Linked DNA regions of Homo sapiens: region 2 is reported to be linked to region 1. Evidence: microRNA targets listed by miRTarBase, many of them from high-throughput screens and not tested one by one. Region 1 holds a microRNA gene; the other region holds the end of a gene's coding sequence.

Region 1 (3,111 bases):
TTACTATTATTTACCTTATCAGCTTTTGCTTTCTGAAATCAATGGAAGGGCATCAAGTTCAGCTAATCCATATTTCTGAGTATGAAATTGAATTTATAGTCTGTAGTATGTTGACTACCGCTCGCATTTAAGGCATAATTGATTTTTATTGAAAAGCCAGCAGGCACATCAAAAATTTCCACAAACCACAAGGATGTTAAATTTTACCCTGTTTAGATAATAGTGTGGCTTTATTTATCCTTTAAAATGAAGGTTTTATATTTATATCAGCAAATGCTATGGAAGTGTGACTGATACCTTACGAAACCATCAATCCATGGTTCTGTAAAACTGTATGCACAGAAATAAGCAACTTTATATTTCTAAGGTAAATGTCTATGGTTGGTTTGTTTTAAGGATAAATGGATAAATGGAATAATAAATCTAGCATCATATCATGTCATGTGCAAAGTTATTTTTCCGTTGAAACAACAGCTTTCACCATTATTTCTTTTCTTTCCCATATTCCTTCTGCATCTCCTTTTTTCCTCTGCTTTACAAATTATATTTTTTTGTGCATGTCTGGATAAATGGTTTATGTGTATAGAATGTAATTCCTAAGAAAAAGTCTATTCTTCTATTTTAAAGTTAAGTAGTCAAACATATCATGTGTGATACTCCATTAAGTAAGTTTCACTCAAATGTTCCTAATACATGTGCTAAGTTCATTTATTTTTAACTAAAAGTTATGATGAGAAGACTCTTTTGAGTGTTGCTGCCACAAATATGTAAATTCAATGTCAGTTGCATGATGGATTTTTTAAAGTGAAGCTCTGCCTCACTTTAGTAAAGGGAAAACGAAATAAAAACAAAAAGGTACAGGTACCATTATTTGTTATAATTCTCCTTCTTTGTAATCTTATCACAGTGATTCTCACGGAGTGGGAGGAGTATCACACCCTAAAGAAAACCTTGGAAACTTGCAGGGATGTATTAGGTTTTTATAAAAATTGCATGGTGTGGAGCCAGGGCCACCACTGACTCCTGGGTGGAGTCAAGGGATGATAGACATTTGCAGCTTGCTTGCGGGAGGCTCTCATTGAAAAACTCTCCTATGCTCACAGAACTTTTGAGTATCCTATCAGACATTCATGTGGTTGAAAAACCTATGTAATATTATCCACACTTTGATTTTATTTTCATTTACATGGAATTAGAAGATTTTTTACATTGTTTAATATGTAATGAACTTTTCAGAAATCAAACTCTCTCATAAATTAATTGGAAATTGTTATTTCGAAGTTTACCAATTGTTGTTCATTGATGGCAACTCTATGGTGTTTGCTGCATCAATACAACAATCTTACTTTAGTTTGCATTAGTGGCTGATGCCTTTGCAAATTTATCATGATTCTGTGCACATGTATCAGCACTTGACTTCATGTCTTCATTATGTGGCAGTGCTAGAATATTTACATTTCAAAATATATACTATTTTATTAATATTACAAAGTTGTTTCTTTTTATTTCTTTTATTTTATAGTTGGGGCATTGTATTGACTTTTTCTATGATATTCTTGAAGTGGTTATAATATCTATGAATTTCATTTTGTTATAGTAAACGGGTTACAAAGTATTTGTTATAAAAAGGAGGAACTGGATCAGATAAAGTTGAGAACAATTGCCTCACGGCATCAAGACATGAATGCATTAGTTGAAAATTCTTCAGTGATAAATCCAGAGATTATTTTAATAGAACAATTATTTCCAATGAGGAAAATAGTATCTCAGGGATTTTTAAATATGCAGTGATAAGCCCTTAGTGCCTACTTTCTTATGTGTATGGATGAAGAGTGTTCAAAACAATTTGTCATATGCACAGAAATACAAAAGATGAAACCTAAAGAGATTATACATTAGTCTCTTAAGAGTAAAACTGACGGAGAGAAGCAGTATACCTTTCACAGAGGCAGATATTTTCAAAGCAATGTGTGACAGGTACAGGGACAAATCCCGTTAATAAGTAAGAGGATTTGTGCTTGGCTCTGTCACATGCCACTTTGAAAACCTACCCTCAAACTGTCTATAAATTTTCATGCCCATCTTTTTCTCCTTACTCTTTCCAGAGCATCTGATTGTTTTTGTTCACCAGTGTTTTTTTTCTCCTGCTTTATCTCATGGCATCCTTTAATAATTTTTAAGAGTTTTGTATATGTACTATGATTTTGTGGCTATGTTATTGTTAACAAAATATTTGCTGCATCCATTCATTTTCACTGGCCATCAACTGCTTCATTATAGGAGATTTGTTTACCTCTTATGACTTCCGAATATGTAAAAAAAAAATCACAGAAATTGAGGAGAGAAGTAACATTTATTATGTTGGTTAGTTTTTCCTTTTAATATGTAGTTAGGTTTTTTTAAGGAAAAAGAATATACACTATCTGGAAAGAAAAAGAGGTTTTTCTTTTTAGTTGTGAATTTTTGAAAACCCAATTATTAAGCCTAGAGGTCTTTAACTTTTATAAAATGGACTCAAAACAAATTTCAATCCTAAAGACTGATGGGCCACCTCTGTTTCTTATTTTGGTGCCTCATCACATGTGAGTTTGCTGATATTAGAAGAGGGACACAAGTATTTGGTAGAACATCTTCTGGTCTCTAAGTTGGTCCTGGTTTGATGCAGCACTCTTTTTCACCCTGCCAAAGATGATTTGCTCCCTGGAAGTAAATATTTATTAACTTGCTGTCAAAGTGAATATGGAAATTTTGCTAGTAGGAATTATATTCTTACTTTAAATTTCTATATTATTTTAAGAGGATGCATTAATGAAAAAACATAGTCCATGAAATGTGTTCTAATGTAGGCAGTTCCAAATAAAAATCATTTCTCTATGGAATTTCTGTTTTTCTCTCTCAAGAACACTAATGGTGCCTACAACCTATTGAATAGGAAGTGTTTTCCAGAGGACTAGCAATATACATCTGACATCATTTTCTTTGCGCATCTAAGTATAGACCTAGGCTGTCCTTCCACAGAATCCAACAGCTGGATAAAAAGTAAAAAACAAAGCAGATCTGCCAGATGGTTTATCTACATTAAATCTAACATCTGTATATTTTTTAAACATT
Region 2 (3,111 bases), not on the chromosome of region 1:
CACTCCCTCACATCCCGTTTCCTGGTGGTATTGAACAGCATGTTGCCAGCTGTTCTGGCCCCAGAGCAACCTTGCAGGGAGGTCCCAGGGGGTGGCGTGTGCCTCTTTGAGCACATGCAGGCCTATGGTGGGGCCCCGCACCCGGCCTGTGTGTGAGGAGGGGCTGCTCAGCATCCCCACTGTGCCTGGAGACAGGGCCGGGATGTGGTGACAGGATGGTCACTCAGGTGTGGCCAGTCAGTGACCAAAGCTGCTAACAGAGTTCACTTTGTCCTCAGCTGCTCCCGGAACTGACCAACCCTGATGAGCTACTGTCCTACTTGGGCCCACCCGACCTCCCTACGAACAACAATGACGACCTGCTTTCTCTGTTTGAGAACAACTGATCCTGTGTTTACCCCAAGCCCGGCGGGGACACGCTCACAGATGTCACCACAGCCCTGCCCTTCATGCCCAGCCCCATGGGACACCCGGTGGTCTTTCCCAAACCTCCCCCAAAACACACCTGGAGCCAGAGCCTTCTGCCGCCAGCCCTGCCCCTGAATTGGAAGCAGCCCTGTGCTCGATGGGAGGGGCTCCCAGGCCGGCAGCCCTTGCCACCTCCCTCTGCCAAGCCTGCTGCTGCAGAACGGTTTTTGCTGAGGTGCCCCTGCCCAGCCCTGTCCAGCCTTGTCCACACACACATCTCACGCCCCTGGTCTCACAGCCTCACACCTTGTCCTTCCACCCCTGCCTGCCCCCACCCAGCCTGCTTCTTGTCCAGCATTGATCCTTCTGTTTCAACAACTCCTCCACTGGGCAGAGCTGGGCATCTGGCAGGGCTGGCTCTGTCCCCTGGGCCTTTGGCTCCAGTGGCCCCTGTGCCCAGCAGTCCAGCTCTTGGAACCTCGCTGAATGGCAGCCTCTTGGGGGCCTGGAGCTCTGGCAGCCCAGCCGTGTGTGGTGTCAGGTTCCTCTCCCCACCCCAGCTTCAAGCAGAGGCCTCGGGGTGGGGGAGCTACAAAGCACAACAATGTACATAGTGTAGAAACACTAACAGCTGGGAGAGGGGAGCCAGCTGTCCAGCCAGCATGTTCCTGTTGTACAGCCCGGTCTCCCTGCGCGCTCTGCTCCTTCCCATGTGCAGACAGATCAGGGAGGAACCTCCAATGGGTGGGGGACAGTGAGCTTCGGCCTGGCCGAGGTGGGTGGGTGGGCTCTCAGATTCAGCTCTGTGTAAAGATTCTCTAGCGGGCTGCGCTCCCAAGTTCCCCTTCTCTGTGAAAGTGAAGAATTAGTACAGCTGTGTTTTTTAAAGCCACCTCTCTGTCTCCACCCCATGGGCCCACACCCAGGTGGGGGAGGAGGAAGCCACTGCATCTGTTGGCTCAGGGCCCCAGCCTGTGCGAGCAGGGCGCCTGGGCTGTTGTGTCTCCTGTCTGTGCCGATCTCTATTAAAGGACTCCCTCTTGGTGGGCCTGGCCGAGTCCCTCCTTTGTGCTCCCAGGGACTATTTTCTCCTCGTAAGCCAGCGACCTGCCTAAAGCTTGGGCTGTGCCTGCAAAGCTTGTGCAGGACCTGGGGGCCAGGTCGACCTTCAAGTGGCTTTTGGGGCCCCAGGTTGAGCTCTGGATGTTTCAAGCCAAGGCTCGGCTATTCCCGCCCCATAGTAAATTTCCTTTTCCCTGGAATTTTCCAAGTTGGCTTCAGCTGAAGAGCTGTTTTGTGAAGCATCCCAGGCTTGCCCAGGAGAGACATTTGCCACTATGTCACCTTATCTGGGCTTGCCCTGGGGCACTGAGACAGTTGTTTGGCAGCCCCAGCCCAGCCAGGGGCTCATCCTTCTCAGCTCTTGTCCCTGGGAGGCCTCTGCTTGTCACTTCCCAGAGATTGCAGAGGTGTGTCCTGCCTACCATCTGCCTGTCCAGCTTGGTGGGGGTCCGGGTCACCATTTCCTCCAGTCCTGGGCCCCATCCTTGAGGGCCTTCCCAGCCAGCCAGCAGGAGAGGCAAGAACTGGGGGAACACAGGAACCTAGGGGAGGAGGGGAGCGCTGGGCATCCTCAGGCTGGCGGCCAAGGCCTGCCCCTGGAGGCACTAGAGGAGGGCATCTGTCTGTGGGAGCCCAGAGGCTGCAGGGAGGAGGAGGAGGGAGGTATCTGGTGTGAGCGTTGCCCCTGCGACATTTGGGACCACACAGGTGGGCTTCCTTATTCCCTGACAAAGCCTCTGTTTCCAGCTCTTCCGCCCTCTCTGGATGAGGGAACAGAAGTGGAGGAAACAAAAGAAGCAGCAGCACGCACAGTCCTGTCGCTGGGTGCGGAGACAGCCTGGCAAAGTCCCACTCAGCCATGGCCTGATGCAGGCCCCAGGCCCTCCTTTCTTGGGTGTCAAATGACTGTGTCCTGGACATCTGATGCACCACCTGCCCTGCCTGTTGCAAACGTGATGCTCCCGGATGGAGTGGAGAAACTAGGAGACTGGGACAAGCAAAAGGCTGCAAACAACCCAGAAGCCCATCCTCAGAAGACTGGAGAAATGATTGAGGAATGCATGGGCACCGTGGCCCTGTGCTCCATCACAAACACCTCTCAGAAACAACGTGGGATGAAAAAGCAAGACAGTTCATACAGTATGATGCCATTTTTATAAAGCTCAAAACCAAATATGTGTGGAATTCATACCCAGGTGCTAAAGTCATCAGGGAGGGCAGGGAGTCAGTACAACACAGTGCTCACCCGTGGGGAGGGGACGGAGCTGTGCTTAGGGAAGAGCAGAGATGCTGGAGGTTTTGAACCTCAGGGTCAGTGGTGGCTTCGTGGGTTTCACTTTGTCGTACTTTCTGTTTCACACATTTTCTTGTGAATGTGCCAAGTATTACATAAAAACCAAAAGGCTGACCAGACTTAACAGTGCTCCACCCAATAGCAGCAGAACACACGTTTCTAAGTGCACAGGGAACGTTCTCCAGGACAGACCACACGTTAGTGCACAAAGCAAGTCTCAGTAAATTAGAGATCGGAATCCTGCAAACCACCTTCTCCAATCACAATGGAATAAAACCAGAAATCCATACCAGAAGGAAAATGAAAATTCACACATACATAGAAATTGAACACACTTTTTAACAGCC

Evidence for each region. The annotated mature microRNA hsa-miR-2113 reads AUUUGUGCUUGGCUCUGUCAC and lies in region 1 at 2,011-2,031, shown strand. An mRNA with a match to its seed (bases 2 to 7 or 8) in the 3' UTR can be bound and repressed. Matches are read on the target gene's strand: a 7mer-m8 pairs with bases 2 to 8, a 7mer-A1 pairs with bases 2 to 7 and ends in A, and an 8mer does both.
Region 2: miRTarBase lists ZMIZ2 as a target of hsa-miR-2113. The part of its 3' UTR that is shown has no 7-base or 8-base seed match.

The regions. Positions count from the first base shown.
Region 1 is chr6:98,022,576-98,025,686 of GRCh38, forward strand. It overlaps MIR2113 (microRNA 2113), which reads left to right and starts at 1,956; the gene lies at 1,956-2,046.
Region 2 is chr7:44,767,238-44,770,348 of GRCh38, forward strand. ZMIZ2 (zinc finger MIZ-type containing 2) reads left to right here. Exons shown (of 19, transcript NM_031449.4): 19 at 279-2,644. The coding sequence ends at 386. Among named protein-coding and RNA genes, the nearest start is that of ZMIZ2, 20 kb to the left of the region's middle. RefSeq lists enhancers at 747-1,273, 1,108-1,247.